Regions from separate parts of the Homo sapiens genome. Here all the other regions are linked to region 1. The links come from fine-mapping of genetic effects on gene expression. A gene starts in region 1. Each other region holds a variant in brackets. All regions are shown on one strand. Distances are from middle to middle. Region 1 holds the start of ARHGEF18 (Rho/Rac guanine nucleotide exchange factor 18). Region 2 has its middle 15 kb from the start of INSR. Region 3 overlaps ARHGEF18 (Rho/Rac guanine nucleotide exchange factor 18). Region 4 overlaps ARHGEF18 (Rho/Rac guanine nucleotide exchange factor 18). Region 5 overlaps ARHGEF18 (Rho/Rac guanine nucleotide exchange factor 18). Region 6 overlaps ARHGEF18 (Rho/Rac guanine nucleotide exchange factor 18). Region 7 overlaps PNPLA6 (patatin like domain 6, lysophospholipase).

Evidence for each region. PIP is the estimated chance that this variant, and not a neighbour inherited with it, causes the effect.
Region 2: its variant is fine-mapped to the expression of ARHGEF18 in whole blood (INTERVAL, PIP above 0.99).
Region 3: its variant is fine-mapped to the expression of ARHGEF18 in whole blood (INTERVAL, PIP above 0.99).
Region 4: its variant is fine-mapped to the expression of ARHGEF18 in whole blood (TOPMed, PIP above 0.99).
Region 5: its variant is fine-mapped to the expression of ARHGEF18 in whole blood (INTERVAL, PIP above 0.99).
Region 6: its variant is fine-mapped to the expression of ARHGEF18 in whole blood (TOPMed, PIP above 0.99).
Region 7: its variant is fine-mapped to the expression of ARHGEF18 in whole blood (TOPMed, PIP above 0.99).

What each region holds. Positions count from the first base shown.
Region 1 is chr19:7,347,275-7,351,338 of GRCh38, forward strand. It overlaps ARHGEF18 (Rho/Rac guanine nucleotide exchange factor 18), which reads left to right and starts at 1,663. Exons shown (of 29, transcript NM_001367823.1): 1 at 1,663-1,967.
Region 2 is chr19:7,307,869-7,311,932 of GRCh38, forward strand. No RefSeq gene overlaps it. Among named protein-coding and RNA genes, the nearest start is that of INSR, 15 kb to the left of the region's middle. The variant TAAA/T (reference allele first, on the strand shown) is at 1,532.
Region 3 is chr19:7,415,041-7,419,104 of GRCh38, forward strand. All of the region lies in intron 10 of ARHGEF18 (Rho/Rac guanine nucleotide exchange factor 18), which reads left to right. Among named protein-coding and RNA genes, the nearest start is that of ARHGEF18-AS1, 22 kb to the left of the region's middle. The variant TTTG/T (reference allele first, on the strand shown) is at 1,866.
Region 4 is chr19:7,468,656-7,472,719 of GRCh38, forward strand. It overlaps ARHGEF18 (Rho/Rac guanine nucleotide exchange factor 18), which reads left to right. Exons shown (of 29, transcript NM_001367823.1): 27 at 170-476; 28 at 1,249-1,374; 29 at 1,471-3,823. The coding sequence ends at 1,643. Among named protein-coding and RNA genes, the nearest start is that of PEX11G, 18 kb to the right of the region's middle. The variant G/C (reference allele first, on the strand shown) is at 1,668.
Region 5 is chr19:7,461,869-7,465,932 of GRCh38, forward strand. It overlaps ARHGEF18 (Rho/Rac guanine nucleotide exchange factor 18), which reads left to right. Exons shown (of 29, transcript NM_001367823.1): 21 at 284-466; 22 at 1,950-2,087; 23 at 2,692-2,822. Among named protein-coding and RNA genes, the nearest start is that of PEX11G, 25 kb to the right of the region's middle. The variant T/C (reference allele first, on the strand shown) is at 1,807.
Region 6 is chr19:7,375,982-7,380,045 of GRCh38, forward strand. It overlaps ARHGEF18 (Rho/Rac guanine nucleotide exchange factor 18), which reads left to right. Exons shown (of 29, transcript NM_001367823.1): 5 at 662-776; 6 at 2,413-2,470; 7 at 3,141-3,185. Among named protein-coding and RNA genes, the nearest start is that of ARHGEF18-AS1, 17 kb to the right of the region's middle. The variant G/A (reference allele first, on the strand shown) is at 2,398.
Region 7 is chr19:7,541,696-7,545,759 of GRCh38, forward strand. PNPLA6 (patatin like domain 6, lysophospholipase) reads left to right here. Exons shown (of 32, transcript NM_001166114.2): 10 at 289-372; 11 at 866-975; 12 at 1,066-1,233; 13 at 1,312-1,389. Among named protein-coding and RNA genes, the nearest start is that of PNPLA6, 8.0 kb to the left of the region's middle. The variant G/A (reference allele first, on the strand shown) is at 1,837.

The sequences.
Region 1 (4,064 bases):
AATCCCAGCTACCTGGGAGGCTGAGGCAGGAGAATCACTTGAACCCAGGAGGCAGAGGTTGCAGTGAGCTGAGATTGCACCACTGCACTCCAGCCCGGGCAACAGAGCAAGACTCCATCTCAAAAAAAAAAAAAAAAAAAAAAAAAAAAAAAAAAGGAAAAGGAAAAAAAGCATAGATTATGGAAAATGCAGCAAAAATAATGTTAAAGTGATTAATTTAAATGTGGTAAAATAGGCATAACGTAAAATTTACCATTTTAACTTTCTTTAAAAAAAATGGGATTTCACTCTGTCACCCAGGCTGGAGTACGGTGGCACAATTATAGGTCACTGCAGCTTTGAACACCTGGGCTCAAGTGAGCCTCCCCGCCTCAGCCTCCGGAGCGGCTGGGACTGCAGGCAGGCACCACCAAATGTGGCGAAGTTTTAAATTTTTTGTAGAGTACTCACTCCAGTGACAGGCTGAAGCCAGCCCAAGAGCCAAGTTTAGTGGAGCATCATGGCTCATGCCTGTAATCCCAGCACTTTGGGAGGCCAAGGCGGGTGGACTGCTTGAGCCCAGGAGTTTGAGACCAGCCTGGGAAACATAATAAAATCCCTGTCTCTACAAAAAAAAAAAATTAACTTAGGCTGGGCGCCATGTCTCGTGCCTCTAATCCCAGCACTTTGGGAGGCCAAGGTGGGAGGATTGCTTGAGCCCAGGAGTTCGAGACCAGCCTGGGCAATATGGTGAGACCCTGTCTGTACTAAAAATACAAACCAAAAAAAAATAGCCAGGCGTGGTGATGTGTGCCTGTGGTCCCAGCTACTCAGGAGGCGGAGGTGGGAGGATCACTTGAGCCCAGGGGATGGAGGTTGCAATGAACCAAAATCACCCCCACTGCACTCCAGCCTGGATGACAGAGTGAGAGCCTGTCTCAAAAGAAAAATTATATATAAAAAATTATATATAAATTATATATAAGTCTATATATAATCCATATATAATTATATATAAAGTATATATAAATTATACATAAATTATCTGTAAACAAAAAACTTAGCCAGGCATGGTGGCATGTGCCTGTAATCCCAACTACTCAGGAGGCTGAAGCAGAAGGATCACTTGAGCCCAAGAGATTGAGGCTGCAGTGAGCTATGATTTTTCCACTGCACTCCAGACTGGATGACAGAATGAGACCCTATCTCTAAAAATAAAATAAACAGTTTTTTGTTGTTGTTGTTGTTGTTTTCTAAAAAAAGCCAAATCTGAGCATTTCCTATCAACTCCACACTCGGTGACATCACACTGGTAGGTGAAATCGGCCATGCTGGGGGTATTTACACCAGGAGAATTGGCAATGGCTACAAATCGGAGAGGTGGTTGTTAAACGTTACCAGCACACCATGTTGTTCCGCCAGCTTCCAGGTACCCATGTAACAATGTAGCCACGTGTGTTTCTGTCTCTCTGTGTGTACCCACCATGCTGGTGTGTGTCTGGGTGCCTGAGTCTCTACGGATACACATGACCTGCACGTCCCTATATGTTGCTGTCTATACACCCATGTGCCTGGGTGAGGCCCCCACACCCTGTTCCTCTTCAGCAGTTGGTTCCACAGGAAGCTGCTGGGGTGGGGGTTGAGGACGCTGGGCCTCCCTCCAGCTCCCCACCCCTCCTCCTCAAGACACCTGCATGCGCAGGGCTGAGGGGTGGGAGCAGGGCTCTCTGCCTCCAGAACCCCCATCCTCTGGGCTCTTTTTAGGCCCCTAGATTGGCCTGCAGCTGGGAGCAGAGTGGCAAGCATGCAGGCAGGCAGTTGAGAAAGAGGAAGTCGAGGTGCTATTGGGTCATTCTGTGGTTATCCCAGGCTCTACCCAGCCAGCGGTTCCCTTGGGCCAGCTCGAAACGCTGGCCGTAGGTCATGGGAGCTGCAGGAGCTGTTAGCCAGGCTAGGTGCCTGCAGGTTGAAGAACTGAGCTCTATCTGGTAAGTACTTATCCTGGGAAGTGGAGAGAGATGGACCCATCGGGACAGAGTGGCAGTGGGGTCTGGGAAGTCTAGGGGGACAGCGAGCAGACATACATCACTGTTTCTCTCCCCCTTGCAGTCAACTTGCTTCCTGAGTGGGTGGGGGAAGCTGTTTGACCCTTGCGTTCATTGTGCAGAGATCTGTGGTCATAAGAGGTCACCCCAGGGGACGGGGATCCTTGAGGGGCTGCTAGGTAAGAAAGGAGGGTGGAGGCCGGGCGCGGTGGCTCACACCTGTAATCCTAGCACTTTGGGAGGCTGAGGAGGGCGGATCACTTGAGGTCAAGAGTTGGAGACCAGCCCGGCCAACATGGTGAAACCCCGTCTCTACTAAAAATACAAAAATTAGCCAGGCGTGGTGGCGGGCAGCTGTAATCTCAGCTACTCGGGAGGCTGAGGCAGGAGAATGGCTTGAACCCGGGAGGTAGAGGTTGAAGTGAGCCTCTCAGTCTCAAAACAAAGAAAAGAAAAAGAAAAGCAAAGAAAGGACGATAGAGCTCCTTGTAGCCAAGGCCCTCCTGCGTGGAGACAGGAGACAGAGAATGAATGGGGGAGCTGGGGCAAAGGCTCAGGTGCCCTTTGCATCTTAAACTGCAGATTCCGGGCCCCCCAAGAACCTCCCTGTTGCAGATTCTGAATCCACTGTCAAAACAAACTCACACTTAAGGCTGATGGCTGACAACCAGCCCTGAGAAGGGTCTTGTCCTGATCTGAAATCATCCAGAGAGCACATCCCTCCACCCAGGCAGCCTTCCTCCAGGTGAGGGTTCTCCCCCTTGGGAGACATCCCCTGTCTCCTCTCGTGGCCCCTTCTTAGGGGGACCTCCTGCACCACCGCCTGCCTGGGACTGGGAGGGGTGGGGGAGGAAGGCTGCGGTTTCTGCTGGGCACACCCAGTCTGTTGTTTCCTGCCAGCCCCCAATGCTGCAGGGCAGGCTTCAGGCACCCTGAGGTCTAGGAAGGTGGCCCCAGAACCAGGAGGGAGTGAATTGAGCTAGAGTGGACAGCTGGGGCCAGAGAGGATGGAGCTAGGAAGTGACGCTGGGGGCTGATGCTCCAAGGCCAGGTCACCTGCAGTTCTGAGAAAAGAACATGACAACCAAAGGAGGTCAGGAAAGGGTTGCCCTCATAATCAGCCACATTTCAACTCCCTTGCTGTGACTGGGAGTCACTCTGGGAGGGCTGCTTGGTAGAGGCAGCCTTTTCATTATGCCTTGAAGAACCAGTAGATGGCAACTGCAAACACGTCGGTGCTTCTGGTCTGGGCTGTCTCCCATGCCTCCCTGGGCATCCCCTAGCCCATGACAAAGGGATGGGCATATGTTGATGCTCGATACTGTTGTAGATGACATGGTGACTGTGTTGGACAGCTGGGCGTTCAAATCCCAGTTCCCTGGCCTCTATGTGGCCTTGGGCAAATGACTTAACTGCTCTGAGCTTTCGTTTGCTCATCTGTTAAAAGGCTGTTGAGTTTTTTGGGGTGGGTGTGTGTGTGTGTGTGTGTGTGTGTGTGTGTGTGTGTGTGTGTGTGTGTGTTGGAGATAGAATCTTGCTCTATCGCCCAGGCTGGAGTACATTGGTGCAATCTCAGCTCACTGCAACCTCCGCCTCTCGGGTTTAAGCAATTCTCCTGCCTCAGCCTCCCAAGTAGCTGGGATTACAGGCACACGCCTCCATGCCCAGCTAATTTTTGTATTTTTAGTAGAGACAGGGTTTCACCATATTGGTTAGGCTGGTCTTGAACTCCTGACCTCAGGTGATCTGCCTGCCTTGGCCTCCCAAAGTGCTGGGATTACAGGCATGAACCACCTCGCTCAGCCTTTATGAAGTTTGGTCTGTGAGATCTTAGTGCAGTGTCTGGCACGTAATAGATCAGAAAACATTGTCAGCCTCACCTATGCCTTCATACTGACCTTGTCCCCAGGCCTTCCTTCCTGAGCAGTCCCACCATCTTCTGAAATGTTCTGGGTCATACCCATGGTGGATCTCAATCTGTAAGCAAGTCTGCTAGAGTGGACTTCTTTTGTTTGTTTGTTTGTTTGTTTGTTTGTTTGT
Region 2 (4,064 bases), 39 kb before region 1:
TTTTAAGCAATAAAAGTTGCATTTTACAAGTTTCAACTGGCGATTTTTTTGTTAGTTTGTTTGAGACAGGGTCTGGTTCTGTTGCCCAGCCTGGAGTGCAGTGGTGCAATCATAGCTCACAGCAGCCTTGACCGCTTGGGTTCAAGCAATCCTCCCACCTCAGCCTTCCGAGTAGCTGGGATTGCAGGTGCTCGTCACCACACCCGGCTAATTATTTTATTTCTTGTAGAGACAAGGTTTTGCCATGTTATGTTGCCCAGGCTGGTCTTGAACTCCTGGGCTCAATAAATCCATCCACCTCAGCCTCCTAAAGTGCTGGGGTTACAGGTGTGAGCCACTTTCCCCGGCCTCCTAGACTGACGATCTTTTGATGGTGTTTGCTCTTCCCCACACTCTGAAGTTTAAGGACACAATCAATGAGACCAGTCTCTACAGCAGAACACGTTGGTGCTACCTGCTATTCTGTTGTGGAGTTGGTGGTTGGGAATTTCCTATTGAGTAGCTCTCATTCAAGGGGTTATAATTCCGTAAAAGCTGCCCCCATCCTATCTGATGTAAAAACCTTCAGAGTTGAAACCATCCATCACTAGTTACAAAGTAGCTCAACAAGAATCCAAGAGGCAGGCCGGATGTGCTGGCTCAGGCCTGTAATCCCAGCACTTTGGGAGGCCAAGGCAGGCGGATCAGGAGGTCAGGAGATCAAGACCATCCTGGCTAACACAGTGAAACCCCGTCTCTACTGAAAATACAAAAAAAGTAGCCAGGCGTGGTGGCATGTGCCTTGGGAGGCTGAGGCAGGAGAATCGCTTGAACCCGGGAGGCAGAGGCTGCAGTGAACCGAGATCGTGCCACTGCACTCCAGCCTGGGTGACAGAGCGAGACTCCATCTCAAAAAAAAAAAAAAAATCGAAGAGGCAGTAAACATCCCGAGCAAAGGAGACCACGACGAGGTAAGAGATTGTAACTCTGCACCAGACATTTCACAGGACTGAATTAAGCGTCACGGATTTGTGGTGAAAAGTGAGCATAACAAATTTCATCCAGCCAATGAACCTCTCCAGACAGGAATGCAACCAGCTTTTAAAGGGACAGCCGCAAGCAATATGAAGGTGTTTCCAGCTATTAAGGATGCACCTGGCCAGCATTATTCTAAGTGAAGTAACTCAGGAATGGAAAGGCGAATATCCTATGTTCTCATTGATAAGTGGGAGCTAAGTTAGGAGGATGCAAAGGCATAAGAGTGATATAATGGCCAGGCGCGGTGGCTCATGCCTATAATCCCAACACTTTGGGAGGCCGAGGTGGGCGGATCACGAGATCATGAGTTCGAGACCAGCCTGGCCAACATGGTGAAACCCCGTCTCTACTAAAAATACAAAAATTAGCCAGGCGTGGTGCTGCACACCTGTAATCCCAGCCACCAGAGAGGCTGAAGCAGGAGAATCGCTTGAAACCAGAGGGCGGAGGTTGCAGTGAGCCGAGACCGCACCACTGCACTCCAGCCTGGGCAAGAAGAGCAAAACTCTGTCTT[TAAA/T]AAAAAAAAAAAAAAAAAAAGTGATATAATGGACTTTGGGGACTTGGGCAGGGAAAATTGGGGGGAGAAGGATAGAAGACTACATATTAGGTACAGTGTACACTGCTTGGGTGACAGGTGCACCAAAAGCTCAGAAATTGCCACTAAAAAGCTTATCCATGTAACCAAAAACCACCTGCACCCTCAAAACTACTGAAATAAAAATAAAAATTTAAGAAATAAATAAATATACCTTCTTCCTAGGAAAATAAATAAATAATGCACCAGCCAGGCTCAGTGGCTCACGCCTATAATCCCGACACTTTGAGAGGCTGAGGCAGGTGGATCACCTGAGGTCAGGTGTTCAAGACCAGCCTGGCCAATGTGGTGAAACCCCGTCTCTACTAAAAATACAGCAGTTAGCCAGGCATGGTGGTGCACGCCTGTAATCCCAGCTAGTCCAGAGGCTGAGGCAGGAGAATCACTTGAACCTGGGAGGCAGAGGTTGCAGTGAGCTGAGCTCACGCCATTGCACTCCAGCCTGGGTGACAGAGCGAGACTCTGTCTCAATAATAATAATGATAATAATAATAATAATAATAATGCACGTATCCAGGTGCAGTGACTCACACCTGTAATCCACCACTTTGGAAAGCCAAGGTGAGAGTATCTCTAGAGGCCAGGAGTTCAAGACCCACTTGGGCAACATAGCAAGACCCCATCTCTTAAAGATTTCAAATTGGCCAGTCATGATGGTATATCCCTATAGTCCCAGCATTTTGGAAGGCTGAGGTAAGAGGATGACTTGAGCCCAGGAGGTCGAGGCTGCAGTGAGCAATGATCATACCACTGCACTCCAGCCTGGGTGACAGAGTGAGACCCTGTCTCTAAAAAAATTAATAAATAAATAAAATAAGGAGTCAGAGAGAGTTTTGACAGAAGAGAATAAGGTCATGTAAAGATAGTTGCAGAGACTGGAGTGATTTAGCCACAAACAAAAGAATGCCAATAGCCACCAGAAGTGAGAAGAAGCAAGAAATGTGTGCGTGTCTGTGTGTATGTGTGTGTGTGTGTGTGTGTGTATTTTCTTTTTTTGTTTGAGACAGACTTTCACTTTAGTCACCCAGGCTGGAGTGCAATGGCGTGACCTCGGCTCACTGCAACCTCCGCCTCCTGGGTTCAAGCGATTCTCCTGACTCAGCCTCCTGAGTAGCTGGGATTACAGGCGCACACCACAACACCTGGCTACTTTTATTTTTGGGAGACGGGATTTCACCATGTTGGTCAGGCTAGTCTCGAACTCCTGACCTCAGATGATCCATCCACCTTGGCCTCTCAAAGCCATGAGGCACCGCACCCAGCTGTATGTGTGTATTTTTTAATTGATGTGAAATTCCCATAAAATAAGATCGTGGATCTTAAAGTGAATAACTTAGTGGTATTTTGTACATTTACAATGTTGTACAACCACCACCTCTATCAAGTTCCTGAACATTTTCATCACCTTCAAAGGGAAACCTCACATATATTAAGTAGCTGTTCCCCATTCCACCCCCTCCGTGACAACTAGTAATTTACTTTCTGTCTCTGTGAATTTCCCTATGCCAGATTTTTTTTTTTTTTTTTGAGATGGAGTTTCACTCTTATTGCCCAGGCTGGAGTGCAGGGGTATGATCTCGGTTCACTGCAACCTCCGCCTCTCGAGTTCAAGTGATTCTCCTGCCTCAGCCTCCCAACTAGCTTGGATTACAGGCATGTGCCACCACGCCTGGCTAAGTTTTGTATTTTTAGTAGAGACGGGGTTTCATCATGTTGGCCAGGCTGGTCTCGAACTCCTGACTTCAAGTGATCTGCCCGCCTCGGACTCCCCGAGTGCTGGCATTACAGGTGTGAGCCACCGCAACTGGCCAGAGTTTCCTTCCTATTTATTTATTTATTTTATTTTTGAGATGGAGTTTTGCTTTTGTTGCCCAGGCTGGAGTACAGTGACGTGGTCTCGGCTCACTGCAACCTCCGCCTCCCGAATTCAAGTGATTCTTCTGCCTCAGCCTCCCAAGTAGCTGGGATTACAAGTGCCCGCCACCATGCCCAGCTAATTTTTGTATTTTGAGTAGAGACAGGGTTTCACCACATTGGCCAGGCTGGTCTCGAACTCCTGACCTCAAGTGATCCACCTGCCTCGGCCTTCCAAGTGCTGGGATTACAGGCATGAGCCACCGCGCCTGGCCGAATGTCCTTCCTTTTTAAGGCTGAATCCTATCCCACCCTACGGAGGGACCACATTGTTTATCCATTCGTCTCTTGCTGGGCACTTGGGTGCCTTCTGTCTTTGGCTGTTATGAATCACACTGCTGTGGACATGGGTGTACAAGTGTCTCTTTGAGTCCCTGCTTTCAAATCTCGTGCGTGTATACCCAGAAGCAGAATTTCTAGGTCATATGGTAATTCTATGTTTAATTTCTTTTTTTTTCTTTTATTTTTTTTGAGACTGTGTCTCATTCTGTCGCCCAGGCTGGAGTGCAATGGCGTGATCTCAGCTCACTGCAACCTC
Region 3 (4,064 bases), 68 kb after region 1:
AGTGATTATGATACAACTGTGTTCTCCCCTCCCCCAAAATAAAAACCACGCATGCCATTCAGCTATTCTGCTCCCAAGACCGCTTTCAACAAAGCTGGACCCAAGGACCTTAGTTCCATCCCTTATCCCATTGAATCTCCAGGCAGCTCCATTAAACCACCTCCCTAACCCTGCTCCTGGGCACTCCTGGGTTCTCCCGGGCTTCAGGTAGCACCTTAGGCCCAAATGTCCACCCCTTGCTTAGAGCGCCCTCCTGAGCGCAACACCCCGTGCCAGCGGCTGCCTGCTGCCGAGCCCGCCACTCTGCCCCCCACTTCATGGCCCCTGCACCGCCCCTCTCTGCCACTCTCCACCCTGCCCTCGAGGTCCCGGTCCCCCTGCGTCCACCAGCAACCCCTTCCAGTGTGCCCTGCTCCCCACGCTGCAGCCATCGTTTCGAGAAGCAGAGCTCATCCAATCCTCCACATAAACCTTTCCGTGGCTTCAGGTTCAATGACAAAGTGACTCTCCAAGGGCCCCCAAGGCCCATGGCAGAACCTCCTGGAATAAGACATTCCCTCCACCCTGCCCTTTCCTTTCTCTGACCGGTCCAGACCAGGTCCCTCCCAGACGTCCTCTCCCTCCCTCCCTGAAGCGCGTATTTGTTAAGCACCCACCCACCACATGACAGGCCTCGTGCCAGCCATGACCACAGAGACCCGCAGCTCCTGGAGTTTCCCTTCTAAATAAACAAAACTACAGTTGAGCCTTGGGATTTGCAGAGTCAGTGTTTACCCTTTTGAAGATATACCCAGGAGTAGAATTGCTGGATCGGATGGTAATTCTTTGTTTAATTTTCACCCGCTTGCTAAAATTTCTCTGTAACCGCAACATGAATCCATTCATATTGGTGCAGAGTGGAGAAAACTTGGAGTTCCCACACAGGTTCCCAGCTGAGGCTGAGCGAGGCGACACTCCACCTTCTCGTTCAGCCTCTCACACTGTAAACACATGCCCTGTTGAAGGTCTATGGAGTACCACGGTTTTCGCATTTGTGTGCTTCTTGTTGGTGATGTTAATGTTGAAAATGACCCCTAGCTGGGCGAGGAGGCTCATGCCTATAATCTCAGCACACTGGGAGGCCTAGGCAGGAGGATTAGTTGAGCCCAGGAGTTTGAGACCAGCCAGCCTGGGCAACATAGCAAGACCCTATCTCTAAAAAAAAAATTTTTTTTAATTAGCCAGGCATGGTGTCACACACCTGTGGTCTCAGCTACTTGGGAGGCTGAGGCAGGAGGATCCCTTGATTCCTTGAGCCCAGGAGTTCGAGGCTGCAGTGAGCTACGATCACGCCACTGCAGTCCAGCCTGGGCAGCAGAGACCTCATCTCTAAAATAACAATATAATAATAAATTTTTTAGAAAATAAAATGACCTTCAAACGTAGTGCTGCAGTGCCAGCAAGTGCCCCTGAGTGCAAGGAGGCTGTGATGTGCCTCACGGAGAAAATTCGTGTGTGTGTGTGTGTGTGTGTGTGTGTGTGTGTGTGTGTGTGTGTGTTTTGGGGTGGATGATATTTTATTTGGGTTTTTTTTTTTTTTTGAGACAGAGTCTTGCTCTGCTGCCAAGCCTGGAGTGCAGTGGCACGATCTTGGCTCACTGCAAACTCTGCCTCCCGGGTTCACACCATTCTCCTGCCTCAGCCTCCCGAGTAGCTGGGACTACAGGTGCCCGCCACCACGCCCAGCTAATTTTTTGTATTTTTAAGTGGAAACGGGGTTTCACTGTGTTAGCCAGGATGGTCTCGATCTCCTGACCTCATGATCCGCTCGCCTCAGCCTCCCAAAGTGTTGGGATTACAGGCGTGAGCCACCATGCCCGGCTGTT[TTTG/T]TTGTTGTTGTTGTTTTTTGAGATGGAGTCTCACACTGTTGCCCATTCTGGAGTGCAGTGGCACCATCTCGGCTCACTGCAGCCTTTGCCTCCCAGGTTCAAGCGATTCTCCTGCCTCAGCCTCCCAAGTAGCTGGGATTACAGGCACGCACCACCACACCTGCGTAATTTTTGTATTTGTGGTAGAGACAGGGTTTCACTATGTTGGTCAGGCTGGTCTCGAACTCCTGACCTCAAGTGATCCACCCGCCTCAGCCACCACCCAAAGTGCTGGGATTACAGGTGTGAACCACTACACCTGGCCTGGATGATATTTTAAACAAGGTGGCCTCTGGGGCTTCACTGAGAAGGTGGGCAGGTCAGACAAGATGGCTTACCACCTGTAATTCTAGCACTTTGGGAGGCAGAGGGAGGAGGACTGCTTGAGGCCAGGAGTTCAAGACCAGCCTGGGCAGCATAGCAAGACCCTGTCTCTATTTGAAAATTATACATTTAAAAATAAAAGTTGGCCCAGCACAGTGGCTCACACCTGTAATCCTAGCACTTTGGGAGACCAAGGCGGGCAGATCACTTGAAGTGAGGAGTTGGAGAGCAGCCTGGCCAACATGGCAAAACCCCATCTCTACTAAAAATACAAAAATCAGCCAGACGAGTGGCGCACGCCTGTAATCCCAGCTACTCGGGAGACTGAGGCATGACAATCACCTGAAACCAGGAGGCAGAAGTTATAGTGAGCTGAGATCGCACCATTGTACTCCAGCCTGCATGACAGAGCGAGACTCGGTCTCAATAAAAATAAAATGAAAAAGAAGATGGGGACAGGCAGAAGGAGCAGCAGCCACGGGGGCCCAGTGGGATGGTGACATGTTTGGAGGAGGCCGGGGTGGGTGGAGCCAGGTGGCCCAGGAGAGTGGGAGAGTGAAGGCTGGTGGTAGCTGGTGAGGAGATAGCCTGGGTGGGGCCAGAGGTCCTGGACTCTCTGTAAGAGACCAGATGGTACATACCTTGGGCTTTGTGGGCAGCATAAGGTCTCTGGTGCATATTTTTGCTCTACCAAAGGAGGTGCTGGATTTGGCCCTGGGGCCATAGTTTGCCGACCATTCTTGCAGGTCACAGTGAAGACGGGTTCCTGGGGAAGGTGGGGGCCATGGCAGGGCTTTGAGCAGAGGAGGGACATGCCTGACTTGGTTGTTAGTTGAATCATTCCAGCAGCTACGGAGGAAGTGAATGGTAGTACAAATAGTCAAGGAAAGTATTTGCTTTGTGTCAGACAGCATTCCAGAATGTTCTCTATCACAGCCAACCCCCAGAGAGGGCATTACTGGTTTTTTGTGTTTGTGGGGTTTTTTTGTTTTGTTTTGTTTTGTTTTAAGGCGGGATCTCACTGTCACCCCAGCTGGAGTGCAGTCGCACAATCACAGCTCACTGCAGCCTAGAACTCCTGGGCGCAAGCGATCCTCCTGCCTCAGCCCCCCAAGTAACTGGGAGCACAGGCGTGCACCATGCTTGACTAATTTTTTACTTTTGGTAGAAATGGGGTTTTGCAATGTTACCCAGACTGGTCTCAAACTCCTGGGCTCAAGCATTCCTCCCACTCTGTCAGTGACAGATGGCCACTCTGTCACCTTCTTGCCACCTCAGCCTCCCAAAGTGCTGGGATTACAGGTGTGAGCCACTGTGCCCAGCCAGCAGGCACTACGATTATCCCCATCCTACAGATGGGGGAAATGGAGGCAGGGTGCAGTTAGGTCCCTGGCTCTGGATCTCGGAGGTGGGGGTTTGAGCCCGGGCAGCGTGGCTGCGATGTCTGTTCCTAGCACACCTGCCCTCTCTGCCCCGGCCCATGTGGCTGATGGAGTTGTCGGTGTGGATTCAAGGGGGAGAGAGGGAGGAGAGGAGGTGAAGGTGGCACTCATTGACGGCTCTTTTGAGTTTCCACAAATACTTGTTTCCTGGAGAGTCTTTCCTTTCAGACATCTGCTAGTCCACCTGGCGCCTGTTCAGTAAGCACCAGGGAATGGAAGGGCCTCTCCCTTCATTTCTGCATTGCAGGTGTGTCTGCTCTCCAGCCCCCCAGCAGCCCCTCACCCCAGGTGCACCCGCACTCGGCCTCTGTACCCCAGATGTACCCACACTCGGCCTCTGTACCCCAGATGTACCCACACTCGGCCTCTGTACCCTGATGTACCCACACTT
Region 4 (4,064 bases), 120 kb after region 1:
CATTTAGCAGGGGTTGGGGACGGGCAATGACCAGCAGCTCCTTCAGGCTGCACCTGGCTCTGTCCAGAACAGGAGAGGTCGAGGGTCTCCTGTGCACGACCCTCGGGGGCTCTCCAGAGGCCGCACAGCAGGAACCTCACATTGGATGTATCTGCTGTTGTCCCCTCAGGCCCAGCCCCCAAGCCACCCTCCCAGCTTCAACGGGGAAGGGCTGGAGGGCCCTCGTGTGAGCATGCTGCCATCCGGCGTGGGGCCAGAGTACGCAGAGCGCCCCGAGGTGGCTCGCCGGGACAGCGCCCCCACCGAGAACCGGCTGGCCAAGAGCGATGTGCCCATCCAGCTGCTCAGCGCCACCAACCAGTTCCAGAGGCAGGCGGCCGTGCAGCAGCAGATCCCCACCAAGCTGGCGGCCTCCACCAAGGGTGGCAAGGACAAGGGCGGCAAGAGCAGGGGCTCTCAGCGCTGGGAGAGCTCAGGTGAGCCGGCCCCACCCCTTCGCCTGGGCCTGGAAGGTGCAACTGGTCAGGCTCTAGCGGCTCGCTGGGAGCCAGGAAATTCGGGACACCTGTGCCATCCTCTGGAGAGGAAAACCAGAAGGCACAGCTGGCATCGTGGCTGAGGCCACCCCACACAGGGCCGTGTTTGGTCTCCAGGCCCAAAACTGAGATGATCCACCCTGCATCTTCTCCACCTCAACCCTCAAAACAGTGGGATGGGGACCAGGAGCCTTAGAAAGGGACACGGGCAAGAAGGCAGAGATCCCTGGCCACGTGGGATCAGCACAGCCGGGACAGGGACAGGTGCAGGCGCCTCTGCTCATTGTCCCAGTTCCACAGAGCCGTTCCACAGAGTGGGACACGGAGCCCAGAGCAGCCCCAGTGTTTCCACGGAGGATGTCCAGGAGCTCCTCTGGGGGACACCTCCCTGGGGGACAACCAGGGATGTTCTGGGATGTTCTCTGAAGATTAAGGGTGTGTCCCGTGGTCACTAGGGCCTGTGCTATTTCCACAGGAGGCTCAGCCTCCTCTCCAGATGCCGGGTGACTCTGCAGGTCCTTCCGCAGGGAGGTTGGGGCCGTTCTCCCTGAATCTGGGGCTTAGCATCTGAGCAGCTCAGGTCACGGGATCCAGGCCGCCCGTGGGAAGTGTCAGGTGGGGGTGGCCAGGCCCCTCTGCTCTCGGAGGCTGCCCTGGCGGGTGGGGACAGCTGGCCAGCCTGGAGCTGGCCCAAATACCTTCTCTCTTCCAGCGTCCTTCGACCTGAAGCAGCAGCTGCTGCTCAACAAGCTCATGGGGAAAGATGAGAGCACCTCACGGAACCGCCGCTCGCTGAGCCCTATCCTGCCCGGCAGACACAGTCCTGCGCCCCCACCAGGTGAGCCCCCACCCCCTGACATGAGCCCAGTCCCAGGGCAGCGGGGCTGCGGCACCACCCGGCGACTGCTCAGTCTGAACCCTCTCTCTGTTCCAGACCCTGGCTTCCCCGCCCCGAGCCCACCGCCAGCTGACAGCCCCTCCGAGGGCTTCTCTCTCAAGGCCGGGGGCACAGCCCTCCTGCCCGGGCCCCCAGCTCCCTCGCCACTGCCGGCCACACCACTCAGCGCCAAGGAGGACGCCAGCAAAGAAGACGTCATCTTCTTCTAAAAGGGCCGTGACTCAAGGTGCAAG[G/C]CCCCTCCCTGCCCTGCCCACCCTTCCTGCTCTCTGGGGACCCCCATGGGGTCACCATGCCCACCCAGCTGTCCCCTCCTCTTCCCTAGCAAACCACTGATGACCGCCTGGCAGGGGCCAGCCTGTCGGTGCTCTGGGCCTTGCAGCTGTTTCTGTAGGGTTAGCGGTGGTGCCGGGGTCACTTTCTGAATCTCTTTTTTTTTTTTTCAAAAAGGAAAGTTTTTAATGGAAAGTTGAGCCAGAACTAAACCAGGGAGCTGTCTGAAATCATAGCACCCCATCCGGGTGGCGGGGAGATCAACTCCGAGCTGTTTTTCCGAGGCAGTGAGGAACGGTGCCGGCTCTGCACGGAGCTGAGGACAGGACAGACCTTGCTTTGAGAAGGAGCTGCCGGCCGGGGCCACGCTCCACAGCCGCCGCGCGACAGTGGAGCCAAGGGTTAGGGCACCAGGAGGGGCCAGGTGGCGTCGGCAGCATCTGTCCCCAGAATCAGGCAGAATCCACTTCCCAAACAGAGCCCCACGCAGGTTCACCATGAACCTCAGGGTCAGGGAATGAGCCAGGCACGGGGGCATGGGCAGAGAGGGCCACGGGGCAGGGCCCACTGAGGGAACATCAGTGGCCCTCCAGTCAGGTTCTGTGGGTTTGGAAGCCCATCGTGAAAGGGGCTGACCTTTGCCCCTTTTTACTTGGCATTGGTTTTGAAACCAGCTGTTTCCCAAACTCTGCTTCCCAAGGGCAACCGTTGCTGTTCACACGCTCAGCCTGTCTGGGGGAGCGGGCCTCTAGCTTCAGCCAGGGCGGGTACACACCCTGGGCACAGGGTCCTCAGCCCCCGGGAAATGAGCTCCCAGGGCTGGCGTCCCACCTTCCAGGTGGGGGCTGGCACATCACAGACTGTCGAGAGCGCCATGTCCCAGGGCATGCAGAGGATGCACCTAGAGACGTTGCAGCAAGTGGACAAGTGGCCGCTGTGCGGGCCCCTCGCTTGTAGTGAGCTGTTGCAGCTTACGGTCCGTTCCCTGGAGGGGTGGAGGAAGGAGGTGTTGGGCAGCATCAAAGGTGCTGGGACATCCCAGGGTGGTGAGATCCATCCACGATCCAGCTCCGGTGGAGAAAGGGCCCATGTCAAGCCTTGTTCTGCACCCCAAGCATTGGTGGTAGGACTGGGTCCTGGCTGATCGTCCTTGTTCCCAGTGGGGTACATGTGAGCCCCTGCCAGGGCCAAGTCCTTCTCCCGAACCCAGGGTCCTGGGAACTGCAGATCCCGGGGGGATTCAGCCCTTCTCCCACTGTGCTGGCAGAGGCACTCCTGTGACGCTGAATACAGTGAACAGGGACATTCCCGCCACTCGGGGACAGATGGGCACAAGGGAGGGGAAACTCCATCAGGAAGTGCTCCCCTGGGCAGAGGCGCCCACTGGGTGCTGTGGGCTCAGGAGGGGGCGGGGCAGGAGCTGGTGCCAACCGGGAACCAGAGCCCCACAGCCATACAGCCCATTGGTGACAAGGTCCTGAGAACACAGTGGCCAGGTGTCCCCAGGCTCCTGGCCCCTCCGACGACCTCAACTCTGCCCAGCCCGGTCCCTGGCCATCAGCGACGCTGTCCGCCCCCCGTCAGATCCCATGTGTGCCATGTTTATCATCAGTGTTTTGTATTTTTGTACTGAGTATCGGAGCACTTTACAGAAGCTGACTGTACATTCCTGTTCTGTTGTGAAGAGAACATTCCCAGACCCTGGCACCCTCCTGAGCCGGCGTGTGCCGGTCCAGCCCTCCGAGATGCCACAATTCCTTGGATGGGGGAGAAGTTCAAGGAATTTCTGCTCGGCCACGCGGTGGGAACCCCGCGTCCCCGCCATGTGGCAGAGGGGTCTCAGTCGTGCTAGGCATCGGGCGGCAGCGCCGACAGCCCTTCCCTCGCCAGTGCCCCTCGGCCACTCCTGGGTTGGAGCCCGATTTTATTTGTAAAGTTGACAGTCGAGCAAATGTTCCTATTTTCGTGGGATCTGCACACGTCTTTGTCAGTTGTGGTCATGATCTTAGTCACCTGCTAATTATTTTTACAATGATTACAACATTTCCTCACTGCGGGATATTTCTGACCCGCTTTAGAACTTAAGACCTGATTCTAGCAATAAACGTGTCCGAGATGAGCGGTGACTGGCGTGCACGTTCTTGGAGGTTTTATTTGAGGATTTTCTTCTGCCCAAACGTTGCTGCAGGAGTAGCAGGTTCTGTTGGGGGCTCCCCATGGCTCCTGCCCCTCAGCTCGCTCACCTGCCCTCCGTGTCCTGCTTAACGCTCTGAAGACCCCTTCAGGTCCAGTCCCCAGGAGTTGTTGGGGGTTTTGTTTTTGTTTTTGTTTCTGTTTTTTTGGTTTGTTTGTTTTTTTGA
Region 5 (4,064 bases), 110 kb after region 1:
TCTCGAACTCCAGGCCGCAAGAGTCCTCCTACCTTGGCTTCCCTAAGTACTGGGATCGCAGGCCTGAGCCACCACAGCTAACCTGATTTTTATAACAAGGGGGAAAATAATCAGAGGACAAGGCCATGCCCTCCCCTACCTCCCAGGAATGCAGGACACAAGGGGGCAGCCTACCTCAGGGCAGGGCCAGCGGGGTTCCTCATCCTTAGGCCAGTCCCCGGGGCTCAGATGATTCCAGGGAAGGCCGACCCGGCTGACTGCCACCTCCACCATCACTCTGCAGAGCGGTTGAGCATGAAAGACCAGCTGATCGCACAGAGCCTCCTAGAGAAACAGCAGATCTACCTGGAGATGGCCGAGATGGGCGGCCTCGAAGACCTGCCCCAGCCCCGAGGCCTATTCCGTGGAGGGGACCCATCCGAGACCCTGCAGGGGGAGCTAATTCTCAAGTCGGCCATGAGCGAGAGTAAGTTGGCTGCCCACACCTCAAGGGTGCAGTCTTGCCGGGGTGGGCTCCTCAGGGAACCCCAGGCCAGGCTCACGGCTCATTGTGGCCGACACGGCACCCTGTCCAGGACAGGCTTCTATGTGGGGGGGGCCCAGGAGCAGCACTGACCGCCCCCCGGTGCCTGTGAGAGCCAGAAGGGCCTTAGACATAATCTGGGCCAAGCCGCTCCTTGCAGACATAAAGCACTTTCTCCCCGTTCAACAACCGCTCTGATGCTCCCTGCATGCAGAGGCTCTAAGCCGGGCCGTGGGGAGGATCTGAAGTTGACTAAGACTGGTTCCCTACCTACCAGAGGTTCCTCTTCTTCCTGGGAGGTGGGTCCTGGTGATATCCCCAGAAAAACACACGCACACTCCCTCAGTGGGTCCCCACGCACAGCTCTAACACAGCCGCCAGGCCCCTGGGCTGGCCGCTTGAGCAGGCAGTCAGCGCCCAGTCTGCTCTTTCTTTTTTTCTTTTCTTTTTTTTTTTTTTTTTTGAGATGGAGTCTCGCTTTGTCACCCAGGCTGGAGTGCAGTGGCGTGATCTCGGCTCACTGCAACCTCCACCTCCTGGGTTTAAGTAATTCTGCCTCAGCCTCCTGGGTAGCTGGGATTACAGGCACCCACCACCACGCCCAGCTAATTTTTGTATTTTTCGTAGAGATGGGGTTTCACCATGTTGGCCAGGCTGGTCTCGAACTCCTGACCTCAGATGATCCACCCTCCTCTGCCTCCCAAGGTGCTGGGATTATAGGCGTGAGCCACCGCGCCCTGCCTCAATCTGCTCTTTCAACAGTGAGGGAAGCCGACTCAGCCCCTGCCTTCCAGAGCCTTTCCGCAGAATAAGACGGCAGAGACGGGGGTCAGTCTTTCTCCCTCCAGGCCCACTGACATCCTTCCACCCGGCTCCAGTGGCCATTGTTCTTGGCCCCCTGGGGACACTCTCATATCCCGCACCTTGGCCTGGAATGTTCTTGTCCCCACCTCTGTGCCTGGCCACAGCCTGTTGGTCCTAGAGGGCTTTCTGTAGACAGCCCTTCCCCACAAAGTCACTCTCCCATATGGCCATTGTCACACAATCAGTGTATGGTCATTGTCATATAACACACCAAGTGTTTCCTGCTGGCCCTGGGCAGGGCCACATCCAGCATTCGCCAGCCCCTGGCCCAGGGCGGCCTGGTGGAAGGAGCTGCAGGAGCCTGTACCCGCCCTCCCCATGGCTGCCCCACAGCCCTGTCCTCTCACTTAGACGCAGATTGGCCTGTCCTGGTGGCCATACCTGAAGTAAGGGTGTGCGCAGGGACAGTGGGGCTGAAA[T/C]CCCACGGCACACAGAAGGGGGCAGGCGATCACCACCCCAGTGAGTCCCTCCGTCCACCCGGGTCTCGCTGCCCCAGCGCTCCGTATTCCCCCAGCACACTTCCGCAGGGCGACCCGTGCCTCCTGTCCCCTTCCTTCCACAGTCGAGGGCATCCAGAGCCTGATCTGCAGGCAGCTGGGCAGCGCCAACGGCCAGGCGGAAGACGGAGGCAGCTCCACAGGCCCGCCCAGGAGGGCTGAGACCTTCGCGGGCTACGACTGCACAAACAGCCCCACCAAGAGTAAGAGCGGGGCCGTCTCCCCTCCTGCCTCCAGGGCCGCCCCTCAGGATGCACATTAACTTGTATGGGGTTTCCTAGAACTTTCTTTTTTGTTGTTGTTGAGACAGAGTCTTGCTCTGTCACCCAGGCTGGAGTGCAGTGGCGCAATCTCAGCTCTCTGCAACCTCTGCCTCCTGGGTTCAAGTGATTCTCCCGCCTCAGCCTACCAAGTAGCTGGGACTATAAGCACACGCCACCATGCCCGGCTACTTTTTGTATTTTTAGTAGAAATGGGGTTTCACCATGTTGGCCAGGCTGGTCTCGAACTCCTGACTTCAGGTGATCCGCCCGCCTCAGCCTCCCAAAGTGCTGAGATTGCAGGTGTGAGCCACCGCACCCAGCCGATTTTCTGGAACCTTCTGAAACCCTCCAGACATCGTTGGTTGTGTTGTGACAGCAGCACCCAGACCAGCCTGCCCCTCTCCAGCAGGCGTCTGTGCTGCAGACGCCACCATTCGGGCCTAGCCTGGGTTTCCTACCTGGGCAGGGGCTGGGGGTGGACTGGGAAGCTTCCCCCTCCCCACGGGATGGCAGCATCCTCATGCCCCTGGCTTGGGGTTCTCAGATGGCAGTTTCAAGAAGAAAGTCAGCAGCACTGACCCCAGGCCCCGAGACTGGCGAGGCCCCCCAAACAGCCCGGACTTGAAGCTCAGTGACAGTGACATTCCTGGGAGCTCTGAGGAATCGCCGCAGGTGGTACGTGGATATCCATTTGCTCGGTACAGTCTGAGTCGTCATAAGGATTCATGTGTGTGAGCAGCTTCTGCTGGGGTTGTCCAGTTTTAGTCTTATTAGCATCGACAAGCATTGTTTGTTTTGTGGTGAATAACAGTATCTCAGCCCAGATTAATGCACTGGCAGGTGATTTCTTCCTGCAGCCTCCTGGGAAAAGCAAAGAGGTCCCCAAGAGGAAGGCTGGGGAGGGGACAGGCTCAGGGCACTCACCATGGCTTCATCAACAGGCGAGGAACCCCCTACAGGGACCACCAGCTTTCAGCCGGGGCAGGTGTGGTGGTGCCTACCAGATGCCAGATGTCCCCGGCTATTCCTTTGCCTTTGAATCAGAAGGCCAGGTGCCTACTCGGCCCTGCCCAGGTCAGGGGGTCAGAGGCCAAGGCCAGTTGCCTCTGATCAGTTCTGAGGCTTGGACTTGCCCCTGTGGCCAGAGCTGGCACGCAGGCCTCATAGCCAAGCCCACTCTACCTCCCAGGAGGCCCCAGCCCCTCGTTTTCCAAACACCCAGATTTGTACAAGTCAGCTGACCAGCAGGGCCTGTGTTCCCAGTCATGACCCGGTCCTGGGTCCTTCCTGTTATCCACACTAAGGGATGTATTTTCAATAATAAGCAGGGGCCGGGTGCAGTGCCTCACACCCATAATCCCAGTGTTTTGGGAGACCGAGGTGGGAGGATCACTTTTTTTTTTTTTTTTTGGAGACAAGGTCTCACTCTGTCACCCAGGCTTGAGGGCAGTGGCGTGATCACAGCTCACACAGCCTCTAACTCCTAGGCTCAAGCAATCCTCCCACCTCAGCCTCCCAAGTAGCTGAAACTACAGGTGCGCGCCCCCACACCTGACTAATTTTTTAAATGTTTGGTAGATACAGGGTCTCACTATGTTGCCCAGGCTGGTTTCCAACTCCTGGGCTCAAGCAATCCTCCTGCCTGGGCCTCCCAAAGTGTTGGGATTATAGGCAAGGCCGCCATACCTGGCCTTGGGAGGATCACTTGAGGCCATGAGTTTGAGACCAGCCTGGGCAACATAGCAAGACCACATGTCGACAAAATATTTTTAAAATAGCTGATCCTTTGGCTGGGTGCGGTGGCTCATGCCTGTAATCCCAGCACTTCAGGAGGCCGACTCGGGTGATCACTTGAGTCCAGGGTTTGAGACCAGCCTGGCCAACATGGTGAAACCCTGTCTCTACTAAAAATATAAA
Region 6 (4,064 bases), 29 kb after region 1:
GCAGGGTGGAGGCTGCTTATCTGTGGTGTGGCCCGTGCCTCAGTTGTCTCTGGGTCCTAGGATTCCAGCCTAGGCCTGAAGGGATTTCCCTGGGTAAGCATCTGGGGCAGGCCATGCATGGCCATGACTCCAACCCAAGGGCTGGAGACAAGGGGATGGGGGATGTCTTATCTTGCAGTTTCAGCCAGGCTTGGAGGATCTTTGCCTGGAGTGTAGCCCTGCAGCCGGAAGGCAGCTGTGTCTGTGGTTGGGGTATGCAGCTACAGCTAAGGAGAATTTGTGTCTGACCTGAGATCCCAGCTCACACCTGAGGAATGCATGCTTGGAGCTGTGGCTGGTGGCTGAGACATCTTTGGCTGTGATCACAAAGGACCCTGGGGGAAATTCCTGGCCATTGTTGGAAGCTGTGGCTCTGATACCTGGGGCTCCAGCTCAGAGCTGGAGGCTCCTCCGCCAGGACTACAGCCCTGTGGCTGGGGAGGGGGTGGCTGAACCCATGTCTTATGGCTGGGGGGAGTGGCTGGAGGCTGAGGCTTGGATGAGTGTGTCACCCCATTTCTGTGGAGGTGGCCCTGGCTGTGGGTTGGGCCCCTCAATCCAGGGAACCTGCCTGCAGTCCAGGCTGCCTTCCCAGCTTAGTGAGATGTTTAATCCCCTGCAGGAATGTGACAGCCCCAAGAAAAGAGGGAGGTCAAGGTCCGTTCCTGTGTCCTTCTATGAGATCCGCTCTCCGGAAATCTCTCCGGGTTTGGAAGTGCCCACTCCACCTGTTCAAGGTAGCCAGCCTGGGAGTTTCCTTCATTCAAACCAAGTCAGGGAAAGAGGAGCCTGGCCAACATGGTGAAACCCTGTTGGGGTTTCATCCTTCATCCTGGAGGGTCCCCTTGGTGGGGCTCCAGATGGGCCCCAGGGAAGGGAAGGGAGCTGGCTTAGGGTCCCCTGGGCAGGGACTGAGCAGAACGCTGGGGGAAGCCAGAGAGGGGAAGGGACCTCCAGCATCTGTCCCTCCTCCTCTCCCTGCAGCTCTTGAGCCAGTGTGAGATTGCCCCATTGCAATGAGCTTGTCCCCAAGATTCTCTCTTCTCTCTATGACTCTTTTTTTTTTTTGAGATAGAGTCTTGCTCTGTCGCCCAGGCTGCAGTGCAGTGGTGCAATCTCAGTTCACTGCAACCTCCGCCTCCCGGGTTCATGCCCTTCTCCGGCCTCAGCCTCCCAAGTAGCTGGGACTACAAGCACCCGCTACCATGCCCGGCTAATTTTTGTATTTTTAGTAGACACAGGGTTTCGCCATGTTGGCCAGGCTGGTCTCAAAGTCCTGGCCTCTAGTGATCGGCCCGCCTCAACCTCCCAAAGTTCTGAGATTACAGGCATGAACCACCGCGCCCAGCATTCTGACTATTTCTTTATCTCTTTCTTTATCTCTGAATTTTTATCCTGAGATCTTGCACCTCTCTGGCATCAGACAAACCTGGAGTCTAAACACATAACAAGTCTCTGAGCCTCTGTGGCTTCCTCTATTAGAACAGGTGCAGCAGCTCACACCTGGAATCCCAGCACCTTGGGAGGCTGAGGCAGGTGAATAACTTGAGCCCAGGAGTTTGAGGCCAGCCTGGGCAACATGGCGAAACCTTGTCTCTACTAAAAATACAAAAAACAATTAGCCAGGCATGACGGTGTGCACCTGTAGTCCCAGCTACTTTGGAGGCTGAGATGGGAGGATCACTTAAACCCAGGAGGTCAAGGCTGCAGTGAGTTCTGATGGCAGGACTGCGCTCCGCTCTGGGTGACAGAGTGAAACCGTCTCAAAAAAAAAAAAAAAAAGGCCTGGTGCGGTGGCTCACGCCTGTAATCCTAGCACTTTGGGAGGCCGAGGCAGGTGGATCACCTGAGGTCCAGAGTTCGAGACCACCCTGGCCAACATGGTGAAACCCCGTCTCTACTAAAAATATAAAAACGCAAGAATTAGTCGGGCATGGTGGTGTGCGCCTGTAATCCCAGCTACTCGGGAGGCTGAGACAGGAGACTTGCTTGAACCCAGGAGGCGGAGGTTGCAGTGAGCTGAGATTGAGCCATTGCACTCCAGCCAGGGTGACAGAGCGAGACTGTGTCTAAGGAAAAAAAGGGGAGGGGGGACAATAAGCGTATCTCCTTCAGGCCACTTGGAGAGTCTGCTGATCTCACACACGTAAAGCACTTAGTAGGTTGTAAGCACTCACGAGACACTGGGGACACCTGCGTTTGTCCCTGGCTCTCTGTCCTCTTCTCGTCTCTGTTGCCTGAGAGTACAGGCCCTGTCTGCATGGCCTCCAGTTCTGCAGGGGCCCAGGGTGGCATCCGGGAGGGCTCTGCTGGGCTGGTCCTGTCCCAGAGCTCCTGACAACTGTGCTTCCTGGGATG[G/A]GGGGCTTCTTCCAGGCCTGGAACCTCCAGTGCTGGAGTGCATGGAAAAAGACCATGTGGAACCAGATCACGTGTGAGTTTCTGCCTCGTGGTGGGGGAGGGACCCCCAGGGAACAGGCCACAAAGTCAGGGCTGCGGGAGGAGGGCTGCCAGGGTGCAGTGTTGCTGGCCATAAGTGACCAGGGCCAGACACCATCCCACTAGTCCCCCCATAACCTCATCTTTCTGCCACCATCCTTCTCCCGGTGGGAGGGACCCAGGCCCCTCAGAAAGGTTCTCAATGTAGCCTTGGGAGACAATTGTGGCTTTTTTTTTTTTTTTTTTTTTTTTTTGAGATAGGGTCTCACTCTGTCACCCAGGCTGGAGTACAGTGGCGTGATCTCAGCTCACTGCAGCCTCTGCCCCCTGGGTTCAAGTGATTCTCCTGCCTCAGCCTCCAGAGTAACTGGGACTACAGGCGCCCGCCACCACGCCCGGCTAATTTTTGTATTTCTAGTACAGACGGGGTTTCACCATGTTGGCCAGGCTGGTCTCGAACCCCTGACCTCAGGTGATCCGCCCACCTTGGCCTCCCAAAGTACTGGGATTACAGGCGTGAGCCACTGTGCCCGGCTGACTGTGGCTTTGAGTAGGGTCTGCATCAGGACCTGAGGCCTGCTTGGGCAACCCCAGCTTATCTAGGGGAGAGTGTCTGTAACCTGGAGCTACCATGGGCTGTTCTAATCCCACCTCCACCCCCACAGGCTGATTGTCCAGCAGGTGCTTCAAGAACTTCGACAGTACCATGGGTAAGTGGGAATCGGGACAGGCTTGAGGGGAGCAAAGTGGGAGACAAAAGCAGGAAGCATGCAGGGGTGTGCACAGGTGTAGGAGACAGGGGTAGAGAAGACTGGGTGAGGGCTGGGTACAGTGGCTCACGCCTGTAATCCCAGCACTTTGGGAGGCTGAGGCAGGCAGATCACCTGAGGTCAGGAGTTCGAGACCAGCCTGGCCAACATGGCGAAACCTCGTCTCTACTCAAAATACAAAAATTAGCCAGGCGTGGTGGCACGCACCTGTAATCCCAGCTACTCAGGAGGCTGAGGCAGGAGAATTGATTGAACCCAGGAGTTGGAGGTTGCAGTGAGCTGAGACTGCACCATTGTACTCCAGCCTGGGCAACACAGTGAAACTCTGTCTCAAAAAAATAGAAAAAAGACAAGGCTGGGTTCAAGGGAAGAAAAATGGGGCAGAAGAGGAGGGAGGAGGATAGAAGACAAGAGTTGGAGAGGAGCAGGCTGCCACTGGCATAGGGGTTCCTTGGAGCAAACAGGTGAAGGTGCCTCCTGCCTAAGACACTGCCATCTGTTACAAAATCTTCCTGTAGCTGGATGTGGTGGCTCATACCACTGTAATCCCAACACTTTGGGAGGCCAAGGTGAGAGGATCATTTGGAGGCCACGAGTTTGAGACCAGCTTGGGAAAGATAGTGAGACCCTGTCTCTACAAAAAACATTTAAAAATTTGCTGGGCGAGGTGGCTCATGCCTATGATCCCAGCAATTTGGGAGGCTGAGGTGGGAGGATTGTTTGAGCCCAGGAGTTTGAGACCAGCCTGGGCAACAGAGTGAGACTCTGTCTGTATAATTTTTTTTTTTTGATTAGCTGGGCGTGGTGGCACATACCTGT
Region 7 (4,064 bases), 190 kb after region 1:
CCCGAGGCCAGCCGAGCCCAATCTCCCAGGAAGCCCCGTCTCAGCCGCCAGCCCCTTTTTCAGTTCTGCATAGAGTCAACCTGACCTTGTCCAGCCCCACAGGGACTCCATAGCGGGGTACCCAGGTCTGACTCCTATCTGGTACCGAGGAAGCTGTGGCCTCGTCCCCAAGGGCCCATTGGAATTGCTTTAACTAGTTAATCAGTCGCCAGCATCTCCTTATCTCCCAACCTGCTAATCCTCCTAGTGGCTCTGAGGGGCAGGAGCCTGAACATGTGTCTCCCCCAGGGGACCCTGTGAAGCCCACATCCCTGGAAACCCCCTCGGCCCCTCTGCTGAGCCGCTGCGTCTCCATGCCAGGGGACATCTCAGGTTTGGAGCACTGGGTCTGCGGGGAGGGCCATGGAGCTTCCAGGTTTGAATCCAGGTCCACCGCCTGCCTGTCTTGATTGTTTTAATCTGCGAAATGGGAACACTGCCAGTACTTCCCCAGGCACTGTTTTGTAGATATTCATTGAGATAGTGCTTCTCCCACCTGTTAAGAGGGATTCAGAGGGAGAGTGCAGGCGTTGATTAGTCATGTCTGCTACAGCAGTGGCCCATGGCACATTGGTATCCATTGGTCTCAGACTGCAACTGTGGTTACTCTCATCTTTTTCTTTTCTTTTGAGACCTGTCTCCCAGGCTAGAGTGCAGTGGTGCTGTCATAGCTCACTGCAGCCTCGAACTCCTATGCTCAAGTGATCCTCCAGCCCCAGCCTCCCAAATAGCTGGAACTACAGGCCTGCACCACTACACCTGGCTCATTTTTTAAAAATCTTACTCTCATCTTTATGGTTTTTGTTGCCCCCCTGCCTGCCTGCAGGCTTGCAGGGTGGCCCCCGCTCCGACTTCGACATGGCCTATGAGCGTGGCCGGATCTCCGTGTCCCTGCAGGAAGAGGCCTCCGGGGGGTCCCTGGCAGCCCCCGCTCGGGTAAGGCTTGGGACCCTGCCCGGTGGTGGAGCCCGCAGGGGAAGGTGGCTGGGAGGGAGCATCAGGAGGTCACAAGCCTGCCCCACTCAGACCCCCACTCAGGAGCCTCGTGAGCAGCCGGCAGGCGCCTGTGAATACAGCTACTGTGAGGATGAGTCGGCCACTGGTGGCTGCCCTTTCGGGCCCTACCAGGGCCGCCAGACCAGCAGCATCTTCGAGGCAGCAAAGCAGGAGCTGGCCAAGCTGATGCGGATTGAGGTGGGCAGCCGAGGGGAGCTGGGCACAGGGCGCAAGGGAGGCCTGGCTGCGCCCATCTCAACCCCCCTACCTCCCCAGGACCCCTCCCTCCTGAACAGCAGAGTCTTGCTGCACCACGCCAAAGCTGGCACCATCATTGCCCGCCAGGGAGACCAGGTGAGGCTGACCCCTGACCTGTAACCATGCCACCTGAGATCATTCCCTATGACTTCTGTGACCTCTGATCCCTGCCCTTTGACTGTAAGACCAGCACCTTCTCCCATAGAAGCAGACCTCTCTCATCCTATCATTTCCAACCTCTAACCCTTGGGTCCTGTGACCCCCACCCCCTAACCCCACCCTATGTCCTCTGGACCTGTCAACCCTTCACCTGTGACCCCTGAACCTTTTGCCCTAGGACTCCAACTCCTAGATCTCTCCTGCCTGCCCTGGCTCTTCCTGTAATTCTGTTTTCTGAACTTCTGATCCTGCAGTATTCACTAACATGTCTGCTTCTCATGCTGACCGCTGCCAGGATAGGGGCTCAATAAATGGCTACAAATCGCCATCTGGCCTCGGAAGGCCATGAACCAGCCCTGGGTCGGGGTTTCAGGGCCTTGTGGC[G/A]GCACCCAGGATGTGTAGGAAAATGTATCCTACCATTCTGTCCACTGTCCATATGGGGAAACTGAGGCCCATCAAGGGTTAGTGACCCGACTACCAGCTGAAAGTCAGGAAGCCTCAGGGTAGGAGGAGGAGGAGGAAGAAGAAGAGGAAAGTTGAAACCCACACTCTGTCCCCAGAGTGTGGCAGATGATCTAGAAAGTTCTCTGCTTCCTCATCAGTGGAATGAGGTAATAAAGAAGAGATGCCTAGTTCGCAGAACCCCAGTAAGACTTCTTTTTTTTCTTTTTTTTTTTTTTTGAGACGGAGTCTCGCTCTGTCACCCAGGCTGGAGTGCTGCAGTGGCGTGACGGTGGCTCACTGCAAGCTCCGCCTCCCGGGTTCACGCCATTCTCCTGCCTCAGCCTCCCGAGTAGCTGGGACTACAGGCGCCTGCCACCATGCCCGGCTAATTTTTTGTATTTTTACTAGAGAGGGGGTTTCACTGTGTTAGCCAGGGTGGTCTCGATCTCCTGACCTCGTGATCCGCCCGCCTAGGCCTTCCAAAGTGCTGGGATTACAGGCGTGAGCCACTGCGCCCGGCCTTTTTTTTTTTGTTTTGAGACAGAGTCTTGCTGTTGTCACCCAGGCTGGAGTGCAGTGGCACAATCTCAGCTCACTGCAACCTCCGCCTCCTGGGTTCAAGCAATTCTCCTGCCTCAGCCTCCCGAGTAGCTGGGATTACAGGGTTGTGCCACCACGCCTGGCTACTTTTTATATTTTTAGTAGAGATGGGGTTTTGCCATGTTGGCCAGCCTTGTCTCAAACTCCTGACCTCAGGTGATCCGCCTGCCTCGGCCTCCCAAAGAGCTGGGATTACAGGCATGAACCACTGTGCCCAGCCTACTGAGACATTTTTGATTGTTAGGATTTCACAGGGTGCTGTTCCTGACACCTGATGGGTAGAGATCAGGGATGCTCAAATGTACAGAGCAGCAGGCCGGAACCATACAGTCCATTATCCACAGTGTGGGGTTTGCAAGAGTGACAAGTGGTCAGGGAGGGTGTTTAGCAGCAGCTTATAGGGAGCGGGGGCTTGAGGTGACAGTGAGCTGTCATAGGCACTGGGACCCCAGCTCTGCCCCAGGCTTGGGGGAGAGAAGCCTGGGGCAGGGTTGGGGTGGGGTGGGAGCTGTGGTCCCACTGTTAGCCGGCTGGAGTGTTGCTGTGTCACTTGACCCAGTGACTCTGCTGTCCCCTTGAACCACCCATGGCAGGGATGGGCTCTTTTCTGGAGAGGAAGTCAAGGCTTTTGCCAGCTGTTCTTAGAATAGCTGAGGAAGTAAGGTTACCCTGTGGCTTCTTTGGGGGCCCCTGGGCCCTGCTTATCTGGGAGACTGCTGGCCACAACCCAGCCCTGGCCTGTCAGTGTACCACGCTGGTCTGCAGCCCCTCAGAGCTTCTCTGCGTTGGCAGGACTTTTGTTAGGGACCCTGTGCTCTCCTGTGCTTCTCCTTGAAACTTTTTTTTTTTTTCGGAGACGGAGTCTTGCTCTGTCGCCCAGGCTGGAGCGCAGCGGTGCGATCTTGGCTCACTGCAACCTCTGCCTCCCGGATTCAAGTGATTCTCCCACCTCAGCCTCCCTCGAAGCTGGGACTACAGTCACGTGCCACCACGCCTGGCTAATTTTTGTAGTTGCACTAGAGATGGGGTTTCACCATGTCGGCCAGGCTGGTCTCAAACTCCTGGCCTCAAGTGATCCACTCGCCTCAGCCTCCCAAAGTGCTGGGATTACAGGCGTGATCCTCGGCACCTGGCCACAGTCTGGAAATTCTGTCTTAGAAGGTTCCAGCATGTGTTTATATCTCCTGGGACTGTGCCTCACCCAGGGGTCCCTGCAGTGTTTTGGCAGGTGGAGCTTCACTGGGTACCAGACAGGTTGGTGTGGTGGATAAAGAAGGAATCTCTCCATTTCTGGGCGGTTTCAGTTCCTTATTTATAAAGGGATGGAACAGGAAGGTTTCTAGCTGGTCAGGCTACCCAAAGAAGAAAGAAACGTGTTTACCCAGCATTTGCCCCATCTCGAACTGTGTGCTGCTGGCTGGACAAGAGGCAGGAAAATGGCTGGGCACGGTGGCTCACGCCTGTAATCCCAGCACCTTGGGAGGCCGAGGTGAGAGGATCACTTGAGGTCAGGAGTTCGAGACCATCCTGGCCAACATGGTGAAACCCCATTTCTACTAAAAATTCAA